Linked DNA regions of Homo sapiens. The protein of the gene in region 1 interacts with the protein of each later gene in a pairwise test. Each region holds a gene or a part of one and is shown on either strand. Other genes may lie near its edges. The genes, in order: CELA3B and GLP1R.

Region 1 (3,153 bases):
AAGCTCAGTGGGGAAGGGCCCTTGGGGACATTCCAGAAAGGCTTGGGGATGTTTTCTGATACAGTGTGACCCCAGGAACTTGATGGCTTCTGGGTGGTGCTTGGAACTACAGCTGAACTTCCTTATTTCAACAAGTATTTATAAAGTATCTCCTCTGGTCTTGTCCTCTCTTGTCAGGGAGGATAGAGAGACATGCCAGACAAGAGGCTGCCTGGTGGGGGACAGGTGATTACATGAATGAGAACGATGCAGTCTGATGAGAGCCGAGAGAGGGGAGTCCAGGCCCCAGACTTCATCTGGGGATGGGTGATCAGAGAGGACTAATAACACTCCTGATAACAGTAATAGCTAAACAAAAAAAAAAAAGAAAAAAAAAAAGAGTAATAGCTGGGCATGGAGTAGTCATGCCAGTAATCCCAGCACTTTGGGAAGCAGAGGCAGGTGGATCACAAGGTCAGGAGTTCAAGACCAGCCTGGCCAAGATGGTGAAACCCTGTCTCTACTAAAAATACAAAAATTAGCCGGGCATGGTGGTGGGTGCCTGTAATCCCAGCTGCTCGGGAGGCTGAGGCAGAGAACTGCTTGAACCTGGGAGACGGAGGTTGCAGTTAGTCGAGATCATACCACTGCACTGCAGCCTAGGTGACAGAGCGAGACTCCGTCTCAAAAAAAAAAAAAAAAAGAGTAATAGCTAGCTGGGTGCAGTGATGCCCACCTGTAGTCCCAGCTACTTGGGAGGCTGAGGCAGGAGGATCGGTTGAGCCCTGGAGTTCTGGGCCATAGTGCGCTATACCCATCTGGTTCTGCACCAAGTTTGGCATCCATGTGGTGACCTCCTGGGAGTGGGGACCACCAGGTGGCCTAAGGAGGGGTGAACTGTCCCAGGTCAGAAACAGAGCAGGTCAAAACTCACATGCTGAAAAGTAGTAGGATCACACCTGTGAATAGCCACTGTACTCCAGCCTGGGCAACACAGCAAGAGCCTCTCTCTTAAAAAAATGAAAATAAACTAAATAAAATAAAACAGTAGTGCTTGCTTTGGCAGCACATGTACTAAAATTGGAATGATATAGAGATTAGCACGGCCCCTGCGCAAGGATGACATGCAAAGTCATGAAGGCTTCCATTAAAAAAACATTTCTGGCCAAGTACAGTGGTTCATGCATGTAATCCCAGCACTCTGGGAGGCCGAGGCGTATGGATCACCTGAGGTCAGGAGTTCAAGACCAGCCTGGCCGACATGGTGAAACCCCATCTCTACTAAGAATACAAAAAATTAGCCGGGCGTATTGGTGCATGCCTGTGGTCCCAGCTACTCAGGAGGCTGAGGCAGGAGAACTGCTTGAATCTGGGAGGCGGAGGTTGCAGTGCGCCGAGATTACGCCACTGCACTCCAGCCTGGGTGACAGAGCAAGACTCCATCTCAAAAACAAAAACAAACAAACAAACAAAAAAACAGTGATGATTTATAGACCATTTAATCCCTTGGTTCCCTGACCCATGTTAAAAAAATATATATATAAGGCCAGGCACGGTGGCTCATGCCTGTAATCCCAGCAATTTGGTAGGCCGAGGCAGGCAGATCATAAGGTCAGGAGTTCGAGACCAGCCTGGCCAATATGGTGAAATCCTGTCTCTACAAAAATATAAAAAAATTGGCTGGGCGTGGTGCTGCATGGCTGTAATCTCAGCTACTTGGGAGGCTGAGGTAGAAGAATTGCTTGAACTCGGGAGGCAGAAGTTGCAGTGAGCCAAGATTGCACCACTGCCCTCCAGCCTGGGCGACAGAGCAAGACTCCATCTTAAAAAAAAAAAAAAAAAAAAGCCGGGCATGGTGGCTCATGCCTGTAATCCCACCACTTTGGGAGGCTGAGGTGGGCAGATCACAAGGTCAGGAGATTGAGACCATCCTGGCTAACAAGGTGAAACCCTGTCTCTACTAAAAATACAAAAATTAGCCAGGCATGGTGGCGTACGCCTGTAGTCCCAGCTACTTGGGAGGCTGAGGCAGGAGAATGGCATGAACCCAAGAGGTGGAGGTTGCGGTGAGCTGAGATTGTGCCACTGCACTCCAGCCTGGGCAACAGAGTGAGACTCTGTCTCAAAAAGAAAAAAAACTCCAAAAATATATATTTTGTTTATATACATACATACATACATACATATATATACACACACAGACGTATATATATACACACACACACATATATATGTATATATATCTATGCACACATCCCATCTAAATTCATGCTGGCCATTGTAGAGAGAACCTTAGTTAACAATTTAATCAAGAACCCCCCCATGAGGTAAGTTCTATCATTATCCCTACTACATAGAGGAGGAAACTGAGGCTCAGAGAGGTCAATTCCTCTCCCAGGGTCACACAGCAGGGCTGGAAGTTGAACCCAGTTTCATCTGACTCCAGAACCTGTGCTCCTAAATTGACTATTCTGTCTGCCCCCCCAACTTTTCCAGACCATAGCAAGCCACTAGAACCAAGGCCCAGCTGGCAGTGCTGATCGATCCCACATCCTGAATAAAGAATAAAGATCTCTCAGAAAATTCCAAGTTGAATCTTTCTTTCTTTGTTGACTCACCTCTTCCCCTCTGGCCTGTTCCTAAAATCTTAGATCTCATATGCAGAGACAGGACCAGGTCCAACCCTTTCATACGAAGATGAGGGAAAAATGATGCTGGGAGAGAAGGGAGTTGCTGTGCGGTGACCTGACCATCCTGGTTTGCCTGGAACTTCAGGAGTGAAGACACTGGACATTTAATGCTAAAACTGGGAAGGTACCAGGAAAAATGGGACAAGTTGGTCGCCTTAGTATATAGTCGCACATAAGTCAGTAGCTTTTCAATGCAGGCATATAAACATGGTAAAAATCTGCAGATAAACAGACCCTGCCAGCCCCTCAGCAGGCTCATGGTAGAGTGGGAAGGACAATGTGTGATCTGCTTCCACTGATGGGCTGGGGGCTTTGGTTATTCATTCATTCAACAAACACTTATTCCTTGTTTTAAAGGAGGGCTCAGAGGGGTAAGGAGACATGGTTCCTGCCCTGAAGTGACTCATTATTTAAAGATAGCTCTCTTAGTCTGTGTTCATACTGCTATAAAGAACTGCCCGAGACTGGGTAGTTTATAAAGGAA
Region 2 (3,820 bases), on another chromosome or scaffold:
CCACGTGCCAAGGTGAAGCTTACATTGGGCCCCACCAGGCCACCTCCTCCAGGAAGACACCTGGCTTCCCCAGAGCATAACCTCATGCCCGCACTTGTTTCTGGGCCAGTTGCTGCTTGGGCTCCAGCCCCTTCAAGGTGTGATGATAGGAGCACGAATTGGATTCAAATCCTGGCTCTGCCATTGACCACATCATTTGGAACAAGTGACTTAAACTTTTTGTGCTTCAGTTTCCTCATCTGTACAGCAGGTATAACCACAGGGTAGTTATAAAGCCCTGCTTTTAGGGCAGGACTTGGCACACAGTAGGTACTCAATAAATGCTGGCTATGATGACGATGATGATGGTGATGGTGATGATGATGATGATGATGATGATGATAGGGAAATATCTTTTCTCCCCTTATGGAGACTGGGAGCTCCTTGCCATGAGGGTGCTTGTCTCCTGTTATCCTCCACGGTGCCTGGGTGAAACTGGGCTCAGCAAGGGAGGCTGGGATAGATAGCGGGGCACATTAACTAACCCTCCAGTCAGGGATCCTCTTGCAGCCTCTGCAAATCTCTGTACCCCCAATGAAATGACCTTCCCACCTACCCAGTCACATCTTCCCCAGTACAAGGTCCCCCTTGCAGGCAGGAGTGAGCTGAGGAGGGCTGAGTCTGGTGGGGTTCGTCACCCCACCAATGCCCTGATCACTTCTCCCAGTGAACCTCTAAAGAGTGAGGAAGTAGCTAAATGTCACTGCCAGGTATGGGCCACCTGCATACACATATCATACATACATGTATACACACAGCAGACACCCTGGGTAGCTTCCCTCCCCGCAAGAGTCTGTCCCCACCCAGCTCTTTTCCTGACTACTGAATTGGAAGGGGTCGCATTTCTCTTCAGACACTTACTTTCCCTTCCCCACACACTGGCCAGCACTGGCCTCACGCCCAGACCCAGGTGGTACCTCAGGCCATCATGAAACTTATCACTACTGACTGCTCCCCTCACCCCAGGAAAGGCAGGCGGACCACTCACTAGGAGGCCTAAAGACATTCTGGGTGGGGAGGGCTGTGTCTCAGAGGAAAGGAAGCAGCGCCTTGACCTCAGCCTCCTCGATACAGGGGACGGTGGGGGAGGGAGCTCACCACTGCTGACCCAGGGCAGGTACCAGGTCAGGGAGGGGGCTCACCACTGCTGACCCACGGCAGGTACCAGGTTAGGGAGGGGGCTCACCACTGCTGACCCACGGCAGGTACCAGGTTAGGGAGGGGGCTCACCACTGCTGGCCCAGGGCAGGTACCAGGTCAGGGAGGGGGCTCACCACTGCTGGCCCAGGGCAGGTATCAGGTCGGGGAGGGGGCTCACCACTGCTGGCCCAGGGCAGATACCAGGTCGGGGAGGGGGTTCACCACTGCTGGCCCAGGGCAGGTACCAGGTCGGGGAGGGGGCTCACCACTGCTGGCCCAGGGCAGGTACCAGGGGCAGCTGACATTCACGAACGAGCCTGGCTCCCCATCTGGCCAGCAGGCGTATTCATCGAAGGTCCGGTTGCAGAACAAGTCTGGGAGCAGAAAGAACAGTCTCTGAGTCCCTGCTTGTGACTGGCCATGGCCCTTTCCCTCCCTTCCCCAAGACCCCTCCCCTCCTCGGAGGCTGCATGCCACTAACCTCTGCTGAATGCTTACTGTATGCCAAGCACTTTCCCCACCCAGCAAGAGCCAAGCAGGGGCACTTGCCACTTATCAGTGGCAGGACCTTGAGCAAGTAACTTAATGTCTGTTTCCTGATCTGTAAAACAGGAGTATTTCCAGCCCCATAGGGTTTTGTGGGATCAAGACTATATGCTACATAGATAATGGAACATAGTACGTGCTCAATGAAAAATCCCTATGGGCCTATTCTTAAATTGCACTTCACAGATTAGAGGGAAATGTTAGCTTACCTTCCTTCTGATCTCACTTAAGATAACCTTCTTTAGGTCACGTGTTATAATTACAGTCAGGATTTCAACCTAGGCCCAGCGGGCTCCAATCCCGTGCTCTTTAAACCACCTTGTGAACTCCCTGAAACATTTATTCCTATAAATATGTTTGTGGAGCCCTCAGTCCATGCACAGGCTGGGAGGTGCTGAGGACAAAAATGGAAAGGCCGGGTGCCTGCTCTGAGAGGCTCTAGCTGGGGGGCTGGCCGGCGGTGCAGGGAAGGACACACAGATAAGACAGCTAAGACAGAAATAAGACAGCAACCCCAAAGCAGACTACAGCAAACGAGTAAGGGCCAAATGATGGCAGAAGTCCTGGGGAAGATTTTCTGGAGGAGGCAGTGCTTCCGCGGACTTTGAAGAAAAGGAAGATTTTGGTCGGCAGAAAGGAAGGTATCCAGGTGAAGGAGTAGCTTGGACAATGAGATGAAGGCAGAGGGCAGGGGTGGCATCCTATAGAGGCAAATGGCTCCCAGCCATGGACATTGAGTTCATCAAAGTCCTCCAGAAGTTGGTTGGGTGGGGAGCACTAAAGGTGGGGAGCCTACATGGACTCACCTGTGGCAGGAGGTGGATCCTCAGTCAGGGAGCGCTGGCACTGGCGTCGGTATTCTCGCCATTTCTGCACCGTCTCCCAGAGGGACACAGTGGCACCCTGGGGGGAGGGCATATATGGGAGGCCTGTGGGTTCAGCCAGCCCCTCTCCTGCCCCCTCACCCCCTAACACACTTGGTTTCTCAATCTCCATGAAACCTCAAAGCCCCAAATTCTGCCAGGCATCAGCCACCTCTGAAAGAGAGTGAGAATAAGTCACTGCCACCCAGGGGCCCCAGGTGGATGGTTTGACATCTTCATTCCTCCCAGGGTGCATAGCTTGATGTGTCACGAGCACCCAGCAAATGTCTGCTAAATTGATGCTTTTGGGGAGGTGGGTGGGTGAAGGAGGAAAGGAGCGTGTGTGTCTCATTTGTGATCTCTGATCTCACTTAGGAGAGAGACTTTCTGAGGGCCCAGGACTCTAAGCTCCTTCTGGCGCCTAGTCAGCCTGCCTGAGGGCTTCTTGCACTTTCAACCATTCTAGAAGAAGACACACAGGCCAGAGTGGGAGAGGAACTGAATCAAGGGTGCACAGCCCCCCCAGGAAGCAGAGTTAAGGCTAGAATCTGGAGTCCTTCAGATCAGTGACCATGGTAGAATATCGCAAGGTGTGCGGGGGCCGGGGAGAGTAGTGGCGTTCAGGGCTACAAAGAGCTGGGATGTCTGCCATTAGCATTCCTCCTCCAAAACGCACTCACTTACAGATGCACTCAACACAGCACCCCCCACCCCCTCCCCGTGCTCCCCTCTGACACAGCAACCAAATCTAATATTCAACCCAGCTTCTATCCACCCAAAGGAAGAGTCCTGAGGACATGAGGTGAAGGGGTCAGGGAGGTTCCAGAACACTGAAGTCACACGTGCAATGGGAGGGATCCCTCTCACCTGTGAGTAGGGAGAGCTGAGCCTCCACTTCCAGTGAGGTCACCGAAATGGCTTTTCAGCACACAGACCCAAACAGACCCATCCCACTGAGAATCCACCATTCCTTCTGAGTGTTTTTGTGCACTTCCTTCAGCTATGTCTTGGGGTTGTCGTTCTTTTTAGTTTTTTCCTGAACAGCCTTAAAAATTATAAATATTCGTCCTTCAGAGGCTGCAGATGCTGAAATGACCCAAGAGCCCCATGTATAAAATGTAGGACCCATACATAATTTAAAACAACATTTTGCTTTTTGAAATCACAAAAATGTCCACGTGTGCTGAAATTAAAATAGCTTCTTTTTAGAAGCTTGCCCCCTTGCCTTGTAG

The links.
Region 2: the proteins of CELA3B (region 1) and GLP1R interact in a protein complementation assay, tested with the Homo sapiens proteins (one study listed by BioGRID).

What each region holds. Positions count from the first base shown.
Region 1 is NC_000001.11:21,986,787-21,989,939, forward strand, and holds the end of CELA3B (chymotrypsin-like elastase family member 3B preproprotein), read left to right. Parts: intron 1-2,475; coding exon 2,476-2,493; 3' UTR 2,494-2,568; downstream 2,569-3,153. UniProt on the Homo sapiens protein: Efficient protease with alanine specificity but only little elastolytic activity.
Region 2 is NC_000006.12:39,055,205-39,059,024, reverse strand, and holds part of GLP1R (glucagon-like peptide 1 receptor precursor), read right to left. Parts: intron 2,629-3,820; coding exon 2,532-2,628; intron 1,554-2,531; coding exon 1,446-1,553; intron 1-1,445.